Linked DNA regions of Homo sapiens: region 2 is linked to region 1. Evidence: fine-mapped expression QTL. A gene starts in region 1. The other region holds a variant in brackets. All regions are shown on one strand. Distances are between the middles of the regions.

The links.
Region 2: its variant is fine-mapped to the expression of RNF169 in whole blood (INTERVAL, PIP 0.97).

What each region holds. Positions count from the first base shown.
Region 1 is chr11:74,743,880-74,752,199 of GRCh38, reverse strand. It overlaps RNF169 (ring finger protein 169), which reads right to left and starts at 3,351. Exons shown (of 6, transcript NM_001098638.2): 1 at 2,818-3,351. The coding sequence starts at 3,319. It also overlaps the pseudogene RPS12P22. RefSeq lists silencers at 2,577-2,676, 2,687-2,946, 2,977-3,126, 3,300-3,520 and enhancers at 2,494-3,087, 3,237-3,326.
Region 2 is chr11:74,968,409-74,976,743 of GRCh38, reverse strand. It overlaps SPCS2 (signal peptidase complex subunit 2), which reads right to left. Exons shown (of 5, transcript NM_014752.3): 4 at 7,045-7,179. Among named protein-coding and RNA genes, the nearest start is that of NEU3, 16 kb to the left of the region's middle. The variant T/C (reference allele first, on the strand shown) is at 3,661.

The DNA.
Region 1 (8,320 bases):
AGTGCAGCGGTGCAATCTTGGCTCACTGCAACCTCCGCCTCCTGGGTTCAAGAGATTCTCCTGTCTCAGTCTCCCAAGTAGCTGGGACTACAGGCACACACCACCATGCCCAGCTAATTTTTGTATTTTTAGTAGAGACGGGGTTTCACCATGTTGGCCAGACTGGTCTCCATCTCTTGACCTTGTGATCCGCCCACCTCGGCCTCCCAAAGTGCTGGGATTACAGGGGTGAGCCACCGCGCCTGGCCAAAGGGAATCTTTTCATTGTATACTTTGTTACATTTTTGTTTGAATCCTGTGAATGCACTGCCTATTAAAAATTTTAATTTAAAAATACTGTATATAACTACAAGAGGATCAGACAACCCACTGAAGCTAAGAGATACTTCCTAAGCCTTTTGGCAATATTTTTGTATTCTAAAATTTTTCAACTGAATAAGCACATAACTGTATATACAAAACAATCCAACAACAAGAACATTTAAGAAAACCATTTTTCATTTTGGTCCTCATATAAACATATAAAGTAATTAATGAATACTAAGTGACTCAATAGATTCTAATTTGAAATCTCATTTTAGATAATTTCCCTTAATCACTGATAAATTTTATGACAAAAACATCTTCAAGGGAAAAAGTTTGCACAAATCATCAAGCCAAACTTCCTCTCATGGTTCAAATTCAGAACTGGTATTTCACAACAGTCTCCAAGCTTAGAAATCAAAATGAAAATTTCTATCCTATGTGGCCATATAATCAGTAGTACTAATAGGGAGACCAGAGAAATACTGTCTTATATCGTGACCATAATCTCAGACTATAAAGCAAATTAAGTAGCATATGAAACCATCACACCACATCCACAAAATTAAAGACGTTTCATCCCTGATTTGAGCAGGAATAGGATAGAATCGGGTTTTCATCCTTAGGCAAGTTAGTTAACCTCTCTGGACCTCAGTTTCATCTATAAAATGGAAATAAAAGTACTTATCTCATAGGGATGTTGTGAAGCTTAAAAGGAATAACGAGGGCTGAGCACAGTGGCTCACGCCTGTAATCCCAACACTTCAGGAGGCAGAGGTGGGCGGATCACTTGACGCCAGGGGTTCGAAACCAGTCTGGCCAACATGGCGAAACCCCGTCTCTACTAAAATTACAAAAATTAGCAGGGTGTGGTGGCGCGTGCCTGTGGTCCCAGCTACTGGGCGGAGGCAGGAGAATCGCTTGAACCTGGGAGGCAGAGGTTGCAGTCAGCTGAGAGATTGGCCACTGCACTCCAGCCTGGGAGACAGAGTGAGACTCAGTCTCAAAAAAAAAAAAAAAAAAAAAAAAAACCTTGGGAGGCCAAGGCGGGCGGATCACAAGGTCAGGAGTTCAAGACCAGCCTGGCCAACACAGTGAAACCTCATCTGTACTAAAAATACAAAAAAGCCGGGCGTGGTGGTGGGCGCCTGTAATCCCAGCTACTCGGGAGGCTGCGGCAGGAGAATCGCTTGAACCTGAAGGGGTGGTGCACAGAGGCTGCAGTGAGTGGAGATCGCACCATTACACTCCAGCCCGGGCGACAGTGCGAGACTCCATCTCAAAAAAAAAAAAAAAAAAAAAAAAAAAGGTGAGGGGAGTGACAAGGAACATAGAAAGTAAGATGCAGGTCCCCCTCAACCCCAGGAATAAAATAGCCCAATATCCTAGGACAGTGACAGGTGTCTCTGGCGGCTTGAATCAAAACAGAGTGCATTCTAGAACCTGTGGTTTCTAGAAGCTGCACTTGTATACACAAGCAATGCCTCTCTTTCCTTACCCAAAAAAACACATGGCAGAATTCCCAAAACAGAAGGTACAAATATCTGGCCTTTCGTGATTTATGTTTCTTGAAAATCTCATTCTAGGTAAGCATTTTTTATCAAACAGAGCTGCAGATGTTATGTTGACTGGGTGTGTCCCCAAAAGAATCCTAAGTTATAACAGTCTTATTTTATACAGGGCACTTTGCATTTCAAAGCTCAGAACCGAGGAATAGCAGGCTGCTGGTGTTAGGGGAAAGAAGTTCAAGGCAAGAGTCCTACAACAGACTTTTAATTGCCAGCAAGCCAGTAGGAAACCCATACTGCCAAGGAGATAGAAGCAGCCCCTGCCACCCAACCTTTGTTTCCAAAACTTTTAAACCCAAGCCAGCTTTTCTGTCAGGCACTACTGGACTTAGTAGTACTAGTATTACAAATATAAACGACAGTCACTTACTGCTTCCTCACTATGTGCCAAGTTCTGTGCTAAGCATACATTTTCCAAAATGTATGAAAACAACTGCACAAGTGTGCTCCCAACCCCCTCTGCTCTCGAGTCTGAAAAGCTCCCTTCACATCCTCAAATTCAACCTGTTCCCTAAACTCCGGATTCTCCACACCCTTCACTGACCCTTTCAAGGCCAGGAGCCACATCTCTCCAAGCAATATGACCCCCAAACTCTTCATCCAACATTAAACCAAGCACTTCTCTGATCCAAGGCCCCTCCCACTCCCACACACCAATTCCAACCTGCCCCTAACTTGTTCCAACAATTCTGTTTCCCTCCAAACTTCGGACTTACGTAAGGCACAGGGTGCCCTCACCGCCCCTCCGCATGCAACGTGCCTGTCCTTCACTCTGAAGTTCAAAATTCACAAACACACTGCACCTGGGTAGAGCCCGGGTTCTAATCCCACGAGAACTCTCCACACCCGCCCGAGTAGGGCCCGGGACTCTCCACCCCCTCACCAGGCCGGGCCGGGGCGCGCTCGGCCTCGCTCCAGACCCTAAGGGGAAGTGGGGAAGCTCCACCTGGCTCCGCAGGCGCGGCACGCGGCTCCTGCTCTGGCCTGGGCCCCGCGGCAGCCGCGCCCCCGTCCCGGCGCGGGCGGCAGCGCTCGGGTTGGCTGCGGCGGGCGCACTCGCCCAGCACCTCTGAGTCGGCCTGGCCGTCGTCGCGGGCCCGACGGCGGGCCCAGCCTGGGCCGCGGGCGCGGCAGCGAGGGCAACCCGGGCCCGCCGCGTCGGCGGCGCGTTGGGCGCAGCCTCGGCAAAGCGAGTGGCCGCACGGCAGGGCCGCTGCTTCTCCGGGGGGCTCCAGGCACCCGGCGCAGCCCGATTCCTCCGGCCGCGGCGGCAGCGGCGGCTGCAGCAACGGCGGCGACAACACCAACAGCGAAGGTCCAGAAGCCGGGCCTGGGGCCCCAGTCTTAGCTGCCGCCGTCTCGTCACAGCGGCCCCGCCGGCCCCGCCGACTCAGAGCGGCTGCTGCCGCCGCGGAAGAGGCCCGAGTACTCGGACCTGCAGCCGCCATCTTGTTTCCCGTTTGAAGGGAGAGTCGGTTGCGAGGGAGAAGAGTGGAGGGCGGGGCAGTACGCGCGGTGGGCAGTGCTATCTACATATTCATGAGGGGCGAGGCTTCTGTGAGCCCAAAGAGGGTTCTCCTCAGACCTGATTGGCCAGAGGGGATACTTCATTAATATTTATTAGTTATTCTTTATTATGCGGTCATCAGCCGCACTCTCGAAAAGTCCTTGCAGTTTCCTCTTACTGAACTGAAAGAGGTGGGAACTGAGGGGCTTTACTGGCAATTCTGAACGATGTTAAACTTTGATACACGTACTTATCCTGTAATGCCTTGATAACTGAGGAGAAAGTGAGTGGGGAATATGTGAGTTACTCAGAAACCTGCCTTAGTGTTCATTTGATATGAGGGCCTGAGCTCTCTCCTAAGGATGGGGGTAGCTTTGTGACTGAAACCAGGCCCACCGTGGTAACTAACTGCCAAAAGGAGCAGCCTCTTGTCAATCCTACCTCCTCATCCTCTCTCCCCATGTCCCTTCCTGAAACTGCCCCCCTTGGCTGGTAAAACCACACTTTCCTGGTTTTTTTCCCAGGCTCTTGGCTCCTTCTCAGTCTCCCGTGTTTGGTGCTTCCATGTGGGTGTTCCTCTAGGCTTAGGCCTCAGTCCCCTTCTCACTCTGCGTGCTGCACTGGTCCACATTTTCTTCCCTCAGGAGCTCCCAGATTGCTGTCTGCAGCCCAGGCCTCCTGAGTCCAGCCCTCCATATTCAACTGCCTGATGGAAACATCCTCTTAGATCCCTACATTCCTCATGTACAAAACTAATGTCACTGTCTCCCATCCTCCTTTCAAAACTGCTCTTCTTATTTCCTTCATTCTATGAAAGGTCCCATCCTCCCAGGTACTCAAGCTCCAAACCTAGTCATCTTGAACTTCTTCCTTATCTCCCACAAACCATCAGTTATTTAGTCCTGTCAATTCCACTATCAAAATGACTATTTCCCCACCTCTTCATCCCATTCCCACTGCCCAATTCAGGTCTAATCATCTCTCATCTAGATTACTGCAGTAGCTGCTATAGATTGATTGTCTCCCCTCTCCCAACCTCTTTTCTAATCCATCCTCCACACTCTTCGAGTTGCTTCCTATAGGCCAGCTCTGACCGTGTCACTCCTGCTTGAGCTAGGGAGAGGTGCTTGGACTTTGATGCTAGTGCCCTTTCTAGATGCAGAGGTTCCAGGAGAAAGAATGACCCCTCTCTAATGGAAAGGTGGTTCTGCTACAGTAGTTCTCCCATTCTTTGCTTTCTTTGCCCTGGGATAGATTTGGAGCAGGGCAAAGAATGGGAAGCATTAAATAAATGGCATTTCTTAGTGGAAACCTTTATAGGATAACACGAGTTTTGTAAAGAGAGAAAAATAAAAAAGCAACATAGGCTGGGGGCGGTGGCTCACGCCTGCACTTTGGGAGGATGAGGCAGGCAGATCGCTTGAGCTCAGGAGTTAAAGACCAGCCTGGGCAACATGGTGAAACCCCATCTCTACAAAAAATACAGAAATTAGCTGGGCATGGTGGCACTCACCTGTACTCAGGAGGCTGAGGCAGGAAGATCACTGGAGTCCATGAGGTTAAGGCTGCAGTGAGCCGTGATGGCACCACTGCATTCCAACCTGGACAACAGAATGAGACATTGTCTCAAAAAAAAAAATCAACATAATATAATAGAAGGCATGAGAAGCCCTGGGTTTTGATGAGATTGCCCAGAGCTAGCGGTAAACCAATCCAGTGCCGAGTGATTGATTAACTCAGAGAGCAGGGGGAAAAAAAGGTGATGGATTCCCAAGATAAGAACCAGATGGCTAAAGGACAGTCAAGAGTTGAAGAAAGGCCAATGGGTGATTAAAACAAAGACCTGTTTGCATAGAGACCCAGACAGAATCCTGCCAGACACAGAAGTATGGCCTTGGCTAGGCTATCCTTTATCCATGGGTCCTGCCCACTTCCATCCCAACTTAAGGTTCTTGAGGACATTTTTCCCGGATTCTGACAAAGGAGATCTGTGATCCAGAGATCAAGCCAACCATCATTAGAAATGGGACCATTTGTGCAGGCTGTTCACTCTCGATGGTTTGGATCTTTTAATCTGTTTACTGTTGGAGGAGCTGAGCCACAGAAACATAGCATGCTTTCTTGGATACAAATAAATATAGAAAATTTCCTTTAGCAGAGGGAAAAAGCAAGAGGTCTGAGTAGCACTGGACCAGAAGCCAGGAGATCTGGGGTTGGTCTTGGCCCCTTCTAACTCACTGTGTGATTTCAAACAGCTAACTTCCTTCTGGGCCTCAATCTCCTCATTTTTAAAACAAGAGTATTGAAGGCTTGGTGCTGTGGCTCACGCCTGTAATCCCAGCACTCTGGGAGGCCGAGGCAGGCAGATCACGAGGTCAGGAGACCAAGACCATCCTGGCTAACACGGTGAAACCCCGTCTCTACTAAAAATACAAAAAATTAGCCGGGCGTGGTGGCGGGCGCCTGTAGTCCTAGCTACTCGGGAGGCTGAGGCAGGAGAATGGCGTGAACCCGGGAGGCGGAGGTTGCAGTAAGCCGAGATGGCACCACTGCTCTCCAGCCTGGGCGACAGAGCAAGACTCCATCTCGAAAAAAAAAAAGAGTATTGAAAGTCATCAGTTCTCGCCCTTTCCCTCCTGCCGCCGAGTCGCGCGGAGGCGGAGGCTTGGGTGCGTTCAAGATTCAGGTTCACCCGTAACCCACTGCCATGGCCGAGGAAGGCATTGCTGCTGGAGGTGTAATGGAGGTTAATACTGCTTTACAAGAGGTGCTGAAGACCGCCCTCATCCACGATGGCCTAGCACGTGGAATTCGCGAAGCTGCCAAAGTCTTAGACAAGCGCCAAGCCCATCTTTGTGTGCTTGCATCCAACTGTGATGAGCCTATGTATGTCAAGTTGGTGGAGGCCCTTTGTGCTGAACACCAAATCAACCTAATTAAGGTTGATGACAACAAGAAACTAGGAGAATGGGTAGGCCTCTGTAAAATTGACAGAGAGGGGAAACCCCATAAAGTGGTTGGTTACAGTTGTGTAGTAGTTAAGGACTATGGCAAGGAGTCTCAGGCCAAGGATGTCATCGAAGAGTATTTCAAATGCAAGAAATGAAGAAATAAATCTTTGGCTCACAAAAAAAAAAAAAAAAAAAAAAAAGAAAGTCATCAGTTCTCAACCTGGGACACACCTCAGAAACACCTGTATATATCAAGGTCCCACCTCAGATCTAGTGAACCCAGAAACCCAGGTGGGGGATACCAGGCTGTGTATTTTTTTTTTTAGTGCCATAAGAATTCTAATGAATACTCCTAGGTAAGACCACTACAATAGATAAATTCAAAGGACCATTCCAGCACTAACATTGTAGAAGTCCAACTTCCAATTTCCAGCCTCTTCTCTCCTCTATGCCATTGCTGAGTAATCTTACTAAAAGCAATAGTGGTGACAGAGAGCAAGGCACACCTAAGAAATCTGGAGAGCCACTCACTATGTGGGAAGCTAATAACAATGAGGATGATTCTAAAGTTTCAAGCCTAGCAGCCTGGGATTGTGATGAAAATTGAAAACTGACAAAAATGCATCCAAACCTCTTTCCTTCCTTCCCTCCTTCCTTCCTTCCTTCCTTTCTTTCTCTCTTTTTTTTTTTTTTTTTTTTTTTTTTGAGACAGGGTCTCATTCTTTTGCCCAGGCTGGAGGGCAGTAAGCAATCACGGCTCACTGCAACCTCTGCCTCCCAGGCTCAAGCAATCCTCTCACCGCAGCCTCCTGAGTAGCTGGGACTACAGGCACATAACACCACACCCAGGTAACTTTTATATTTTTTATAGAGACAGAGTTTCACCATGTTGCTCAGGCTGGTCTTGAACTCTTAAGCCCAAGTGATCTACCTGCCTCGGCCTCTCAAAGTGCTGGGATTACAGGCATGAGCTACCGTGCCTGGCCCAAACCTCCTTTCTATTTAGGGAATTCCCCATTCTATATAGTATTGATGAGGCTAGGGAAGCTGAACCTGAAGGGATATTCTTCTCCCTGCCCCCTAACAGTTAGGACGTGACACATGACCCAGGCTCAGCCACCTGGCCACTATTCTCTGAGCTTGGCATCTTCAGCAAGTGACATGAAAACATAGAGACAATTTTAGAATTATTCATAGCAACAGAGACAGTAGGTATGCAACAGCAGTGGGGCCCTGGTGGGGTTTGAGGGGGGTGGCCCTGCCATGATGAGGGTGGCCATGCCAGGCTGTACCTGAGACACAGACTTGGCTGTGGTTCCCGTTGCCGAGCCTGCCTAGGTTACAGCCCATTTTCCATATCCGATGCTGCAGTTTTCCTGTCAACTCTTTGTATCCTTTCAGTAAATTTCATTTTTTCTTAAATGACTCACAGTCTCTGTTGTTTACATCAAAGTACTCTAACTGAGACATTAGCTTGTTGTTTTTGAAGTGTCGCCTAAAAATGGTTGTCAAGGGTGCTTGGTAGATTATAAAATGATACAAGAAGCTTAAGCCAACAGCCTAGAGTAGAACAAGCCCAAATAGCTTTTCTCTAAGGCCCCACCTGCACCACAGACCACCATGGGAAGAAGGATTCACAGACTCCCTTTAATGCACGATGCCAACTGGAACAAATGGCAGTGCAGCCCCAGGTACCAATGCTTCCCCTCCAGCTGCTTTCTGAGGATTGCATTGCTGTCAGAATTCCCTACCATCCTTCTCATAGCACCTCTACCCAGATAGCTCTGCATGGTTCCACCCCACCACTACCCCTTCCTCACTCCTCATCCACATCACTACAAAACTTCCCTCTAGCTGATGGCTCCAGCTTCTCCTTGCTGGACTGAAAGACTCAGATATGAGCAAGGCCATTCAGCCTAGTTCCAGGTGGAGACAAGGCTGTTTCTTCCTGCAAGCCCAAGACCTCTCCTTCCAGCTTAAGTGCTGCTGAG
Region 2 (8,335 bases), 220 kb before region 1:
GGGAACAAACACATCCTTTAAAAGCAAAAGCAAAAACAAAACCCCAGGGCTCCTAACTTTTCAAGATACTAGTTCTGATTCTTAGGTGTTGACATATCTTTCCTACTTTAATTACTGTGTACCTCCTTTACCTTGTTGTAGACTTTTAAACCACGTGGACCATCTTCTCTCATCTCTGGACTTCGTATTTGCCATGCTAGACAGGTTTTCCTCGCAGACTCTTCTCCCCTATCTCACCTGAGAAGTTCTTATTTGTTAACACTATACTTGGGCATAAACTTTTCTGGGAAAGCCTACCAATCTGGGTCAGATGTGTTTCCTCTGTCTTCCACAGTACCATCAATCAATACTCAACTCAAATACTGACCTCCTGTCATATGCCAGGCCTAATAATAGGCTCTTATGGTATCAACAAAATTACCTATCTGTTGACATGATGTGTACTACTTTCTTCACTAGACTGGGAGGTTTCTTTTCCCTTTGTTTCTGGTGCTTGAATCAGGATTGTCTAGGAGATTCTTGAGCAAAGATTGTTGTCTTAATTGCTTCATACTCTTAGCTGGGCTTCTAGTAGGCAATCAAATTTTTATAAATAAATGAAGAACCCTTGCTTTCAAGGATGCTCTCCAATCCCGGGGTGCCTAGTCCTTGCACTCTGTAATCAATCTAGCTCCAGGTTTTACTCTGATCCCAGGCCAGGGATGCCAACTGCTTTACTAAATGAACTCCAGAGATTCCTTTAGCTATACTTCAAGGTACCCTGAAGGCCATTACTATGTCCATTCATTCAAGAGGGTTTAATGACACCAATTACTGGTAGGCTGACATCCCCCACCCTGTTTCCATTTATTAGGACATATTCAGTGGATTGTCAAGCTAGTATTATCTTTAAATGAAGCAGTTTCTTGAGGCTCTATTTCTGCATGTTTAAAATGGGAGAACTTCCACCTGCTTTCAGGATTACTGTCATGACTAAAACAGTGTCTATCATTAACTAGTGCTCAAAAGGTCACAGCTCCTCAATAATTGTTGGTCTAGGCAGTAACTCCCAACTTGGAGAGCTAGTAGTGAAGTTCCTTTAACTATTTTCAACACCTCAAAATATTTTCTCAAGTTCTGACCAACTGCTAATTGATATCACAGTAATTTTTAGACTTCTGTGCCCAGTTTTATTGGCAGTTACATGGCTTTGGTGGCAGTCCATGATCTGATGAGTTGTGACCTGATACATTTTAGAAATGTTCATTAATTCAGATATTTACTGAGCCTACCTATATGTGACAGGCAGTTTTAGATGGTAAGGATATACGGCAGTGAACATAATATAAATGTCTGCCTTTTGGGACTTTCATTTTAGTGTGTGTGAGGGAACAGACAGTATAAAAAAAGAAGATGTTCTCTTAAATAGATGGGCAGAAAAGCCTTCACTAAGCAGATGTCTGAGCAGAGACAAGAAAGGTAAGAGAATAAGCTATCTGGAAAAAGAATGTTCCAGGAAAAAGGAACAGCAAGTGCAAAGGCCCTGAGGCAAGAACATCCCTGAAATGTCTTAAGAACAGAAAGGGGCCTAATGTGAACAGAATGAAGTGGGAGAGGATGAGAGCCAAGGAGATGAGGGTATGTTTGCATCGGTGTGTGGAGTGCAGAGAATAGACATGTATGGACTTCTAAGCCATCCTTAGGATTTTGGCAATTTCTCTGAGAGAGTTTTGAGCAAAAGACTGAGTTGATCTGACTTATGTTTCAAAAGGATCACTTTGCTTGCTGTCCTGGGAATAGACTATGGGTGGAGAGAGGGCTGCAGAAGTCCATTACAACATCATTACAGTGGGCCGGGTGCCGTGGCTCATACCTATAATCCCAGCACTTTGGGAGGCCAAGGCGGGCAGATCACGAGGTCAGGAGATCCAGACCATCCTGGCTAACATGGTGAAACCCCGTCTCTACTAAAAATACAAAAAATTAGCCAGACGTGGTGGCTGGTGCCTGTAGTCCCAGCTATTTGGGAGGCTGAGGCAGGAGAATGGTGTGAACCCAGGAGGCGGAGCTTGCAGCGAGCCGAGATCGCGCCACTGCACTCCAGCCTAGATGAAAGTGTGAGACTCTGTCTCAAAAAAACAAAACAAAAAAAGAACATCATTACAGTAACATATGTGAGAGAGGATGGTAGCTGTGGAGATGGTAAATGGTTGGACAATACATTTAGATGGTGGAGCTAACAGGATTTGCTGACAGACTAAAGAAGGACTGAGAAAGAGGAGTCAAAATGACTCCAGAGCTCTGTAAGGACAGCACTGCCATTTATTGAAGTGGGAAAAACTGAGGGAAGGGCAGGTTTGGATGAGTGAGAGATGAGTTAGGTTTTGGACCTGTTGACTTTGAGATGCCTATTAGGATCCAACATCAAAAAGAATGCCAGAATATATTTAGAGTTCAGAGAAGAGGTCAAGGATGAAAATACAAATTTAGAGATCTTCATCATAGAGAAGAGGTTCCAGAACAAGCCCTGGTGGCATTTCAAATGTAAAAAAATGGGAGATGAAGAATCACAAAGGAGACTGAGGAACAAACATTAAGGTAAGAAGAAAATTAGAAGTGTGTGGTATCTGAGAAGCCTAGTTAAAAAAAAAAAGTATTACAAAGTAAGGGTAATTAGCTATGTCAAATGCTGCTGACAGGTCAAGTAAAGGAGACAAGAGCAGATCCAGGTGATAGCACAAGAAGAAAAGGAGAGCAGAGAAATGAGGAGACTGTGTGAGAAGCAGAAGGGGAAAGAAAACCTTTTTTTTTTTCAGTTGGGAGAAATTACAGTATATTTGTATGTCAGAAGGAATGATCCAGCAGAGAGGAAAACATCAAGTAAGAGAGAAGAGATAGAATCCCATAGACCCAAGGGAGGGAAGGCCTTAGATAGGTACTTGGAAGTAGGTGAGTAGTGATGGTAGACTTATGATGGCTTCTATCTTCCCAACAACAAAAAACCGAGAGTAAAGATGGGGGAGGAGGCCTAGCAGGTTTGAGGACAGGGAAGATATGAAAGATCCTCCAGGACAGGGAGAGAGTAACTGGACTACAGAAGTGTCATGGAATCTAAGCCAGGTAAGGAGGAAGTGAAGTGGGTTACAGATGCCACTGGGGCAGAAGAAATGCCGTGACAAGAGAACTAGAAGGAAATAAATGAGAGTAACAGGAAGCAATGGTCAGGGTGGGATACTTAAAACTGAAATTATTGCAGGTAATTTGTTCTTATTAATTGCAAGGTCTACTAGGGTATGTCTATGAAAATAAATGTTTAAGGCATGATAGAAAACAGGATAATGGGAAGAAAGGAAGTAAAACTGAGAGGCCAAGTTACTAGAATAACCATCTATGTGAATATGGCAATCACCAAGACTTAAGAAAGGACAAATGTTAGAGAGAGTGCCAATGAGCCAGGAATTATCTTCAAAAGACTAGGTGTGTGTTTAACCGCAAAGAAGAGGCATAGAAGTGGCACAATGTGATGACATGCATTCAAAGGGGGGATTTTAGGGAAGAGGACGCATTGGAAGCTGCAAAGGAGAGACCCATCTCTACCTGTAGTACCGGAGTAATGAAGGCTGTGAGAGAAACATCAGCCACCACTTGCAGTCTGCAGTGGAAATATGTCCTCAGAGGTTA[T/C]GGTCAGGTTTCACTTAGGGTAAGAAAGAGAAGGGATGTTCCCCTTCCTGTGTCCATGTGATCTCATTGTTCAATTCCCACCTATGAGTGAGAATATGCGATGTTTGGTTTTTTGTTCTTGCGGTAGTTTACTGAGAATGATATATCCCTTGGGGAAAATATTGCCTAAGTATGCAGGAAAAAAAAAAATATATATATATATATAAAACATTAATAAGAGAGATTAGATTGATTTATAGCTATGCTATAAATGAAATGAGATAGATTTTATATTGTCTTATAACCTTATATGGTAAATGTTCATATTACAAAGTTAAATAAAAGTTTCAGTGGATCCAATTTGTTGTTTAAAAAAAAAAAAAAGAGAAGGGAATGTTCATAGAGATGGCTAGGTTATAGGGGACTTTGTGGATGGCTGACAATGACTGGGCTGCAGGCAAAGACTAATTAGGAGGTCAAGGCTGCAGCCCAGCCCAGATGAATGTCAATCATTCACATAACAAAACATGCCACGCCAGGCCCTGGGCTGGGTCTGGTTACCAAGGGGTGAGTGAGAAAGTCCCACCTGGGCTTAGGTTTCTACTGTATAGTGAATGGTAAAGGAGCTCACACTTTGGAGGAGGGGGCGGGCCCAGGAGGAGACACAGATATTAAATAATTATAGCTCCATGTGGTAACTAACAGAGGTAAGCATAAATGCTTTTAAGAATAACTAGGATGGGCTGGGCGTGGTGGCTCACACCTGTAATCCCACCACTTTGGGAGGCCAAGGCTAGGCGATCACTTGAGGTCACGAGTTCAAGTCCAGCCTGGCCAACATGGTGAAACCCCATCTCTACAAAAAATACAAAAATTAGCCGGGTGTGGTCGTGGGTCCGTAATCCCAGCTACTCAGGAGGCTGAGGCAGGAGAATCACTTGAAGCCGGATGAGGAGGTTGCAGTGAGCCAAGATCGCGTCATTGCGCTCCAGCCTGGGTGACAAGAGTGAAACTCCATCTCAAAAAAAAAAAGAATAACTAGGACCACCTAATTTAGACTAAGGCATGTTAAGGAAGACTAAGGTATGTCAGGGAAGGCTTCTTGGAAGTAGGAGTGAGCCAGGTTACAGAAAGATAGCTAAGCCAGAGAGAAGAATATGTTTAAAGGTACGGGGTCACTGGAAACTTGGATAACTTAGCATATTGCAAATTCCATAATATTGCCAGAGTAAGAGAATGTATTTTGAGAGGGGCATAAAAGAAAGCTGGAGATGTCACTAGGGGATGAATGCTGTAATACTTCATATGCTGAAGGAGTTTAGACTGTATAATGAATTTGCTGGGGAGTGACAAAATCACTTTTTGCGAGAGAGTCACATAGCTTGTGTTGTCTGCACGTGGCAACTAGTAGTCTGTGAAACCTTTCATTGCCATTTTCACATCACATGACCTGGCAGTGGGAATAAGACATCAGAATCAGCCACTGTTAAGCTACTAAATCAGTCGGTGAGGTGGGGGAGGGAGAAGACATCAGCAGAAAGCCGGGAAGAGAGCAAGAACATTCACATTCCACTCCACCAACAATACGGCAGTTGGTAAAAATCAGCAGGAAACGTGAAAAAAATCAGAACCCTTGTACACTGCTAGTGAGATTGTAAAATAGGGCAGCCACTTTGGACAACAGTCTGGCAGTTCATCAAACAAAGAGAGTTAGCATACCATACAAGTCTTCTCCCAGGTGTATTACCCAAGAGAAATGAAAACATGTCTACCTAAAAACATGTACACAAATATGTATAGCAACATTATTCATAATAGCCAAAAAGTAGAAACAACCCAAATGTCTGTCAACAAATGGATAAACAAAATGGAATGTTACTTGACCATAGAAAGGAATGAAGTACTGATACATGCTACAACATGAACGAACCTTGTGTGCAGTATACATAGGAAGTAATTGCACTAAGTGAAAGAACCCAGTTATAAAAGACCACATATTGTATGATTCCATTCATATGAAATGTCCATAAAAGAGAACAGAGAAAGTAGACTGGTGGTTGCCCAGGGCTCAGGCAAGTGGGAGGATAGGGAAGTGATTAGCTAGAGTACAGAGGTTTTTTTTTTGAGGTGATGAAAATGCTCTAAAATTGACTGTGATAATGGTTGCAAATATCTGTAAATACTACTAGGTACTTTTGAACTGTACACTTTAAATGGGTGAACTGTATGTATGGTAGGTGAATTATATAAAAGTTCTTAAAAAATACAAAAGTCAGAATAAAAATAATGAAATTATAATGCCGCTAGGTTTTAGAATTCTGCAACTCAGCTTCAGTGGCCTGGTAGAGGATGCAGATTATGATGGCTGAGGCCAAAGGGCAGCTAGAAGCCCTGTCAGGAGATAAGCAAGAACTCAGCTGCAACAACAGAATGAAGGTCTGCTTCCCTTTCTCATAGGCGCTTCTACAAGTTGGCAATGAGACAGTCTGTATGGCACAGATGCTACACTTAACTTCATATATAAATAATTGTACCTATAATTTGTGCGGCTATTATGCACCAGTTAAGTATAATAGGTTTTTAAGATAGTGACTACGAGTATGAATTCTGGTTTCAAACTTGGGCTGGAATTCCTGCTCTACCACTTTTGGGCTATATGATACTGGAAGAGTTGATTTAAACTTTGGGCCTGTATTCTTATCTATAAAATGAGTGTTCTAAAACTTAATGAGATAATGCATTTAGCAGAATACCCAACATACAGTAAATGTTCAATAAACATTTGCTATTATTATAATTGGTATTTCATCTTCCCAGAAACTCTAGGCATCATTTTTGACCCCACTAAACCTCAGATAATTTATATGATTTACCCAAAGTTATACAGCTAGAAAGAAACTGAATTGGAACATGAACCTAGTTCTTGGTACCTACAAAACACATGTGTGTCAGCTGCACAAAGTTATACCTGACACTGGTCAGAAACAGACTCTAGATTGTGCTTTTTTTGAGTTGCCCAGTGCACTGCTCCAGATATTCTTGATTGTATTCGTGGAGAGAAGACAGGATCATAGAAGACACAGAAGCTAATGGAATTCTTCAAAGATAACTGATCTCACATCTTTGGCCTTTATACTTTTGTATGCTTAATCGTCTCTGTTAACTGGCCACAGGAAAAAGTACCTTCTCCCACAGTTTATCCTCAGAGCATTTCTGTGATAACGCAATCTCAGAACTATAGGGCTAGGACAAACCTTCTAGATCATCCATACTCCTTTCTTCATTTTATATGACTAGCCCTATGATCCACATAGAGTAGGCACATAATAAGTCTTCTGTTGATAATGACAACATGCCAGGGCAAATCCAACACCAGGATTTAAAAATCTGTGAGGATAGTCATACCTTTTAAGACTGGAGGACAGCTGCCAAATATCATCAGGATCCATTCCTGTAGGATCTTTCCTGTGGGCCACGAGAAAGATGCTCTTCTCCTTATATGAGGTATAAATGGTCAGAATCCCCATCATCACAAAATAGGTTCAAATAAAGTTAAGGGGAAAATACCCAAACATAAAAGAGAAGTAACACAAATTGACAAGCAACAGATATAAAAACTTTCATAATGATAGTCCTAAAGAAGACAGCTTTGTCTTGCTGCCAAAACACTGAAAATTTAGCTATTTCATTTTCATCCTTATGTTTATATACCAAGAGAAGCAAGGCTCTCTCTGGTTAATTCTGCAAACACCTCAGAAAGGAAGAAAAGAAAAAGATACAGAGCATAAACTAGCTCTCATCTTTATGTTCAAAGACAACATGTATAATAAGATACCTAGTTTGTCAAGACTTTGTTATAATAGTGCTTATTTCTTTATAAAAAACAACGAATAGTCCCAGTGGACTTGACCATGTTCAACTGATTTTAAGGGTTATTAAGAGAAGAAAAGTGACCCAAATAGTTTACTATAAGAGAGTATGTCAAATAGTACTACGATTACTTCCTATATGCATATAGACTTATTATTATATTGTTTTTGACAGTATTAAGTACCATAGTTAATAAGCACTTATAGTTTGCCAAAAACTGGCATAAGAGCTTTGTGTATACTGTGCCATTTAAATTTCATAAACAAGGCTGGGCACGATGGCTCACACCTTTAATACCAGCACTCTGGGAGGCCGAGGCAGGTGGATTGCTTGAGACCTGGAGTTTGAAACCAGCCTGGCCAACAAGGAACAATGGGAGACCCCATTTCTACTAAAAATACAAAAATTAAGGCTAGGCGTGGTGGCTCACACCTGTAATCCCAGCACTTTGGGAGGCTGAGGTGGGCAGATCACTTGAGGTCAGGAGTTCGAGATGAGCCTGGCCAACATGGTGAAACCCCATGTCTCTACCAAAAATACAAAAATTAGCTGGGCATGGTGGTACATGCCTGTAGTCCTGCTACTCAGGAGGCTGAGGCATGAGAATGGCTTGAACCCAGGAAGCAGAGGTTGCAGGGTTGCAGTGAGCCGAGATCGTGCCACTGTGCTCCAGCCTGTGTGACACAGCAAGACTCTGTCTCAAAAAAAAAAAAAAACAAAAAAAACCCACAAAAACCAAAAAAAAATTAGCTGGATGTAGTGGTGCAGGCCCGTAATCCCAGCTACTTGTGTGGCTGAGGCAGGAGAATCACTTGAACCTGGGAGG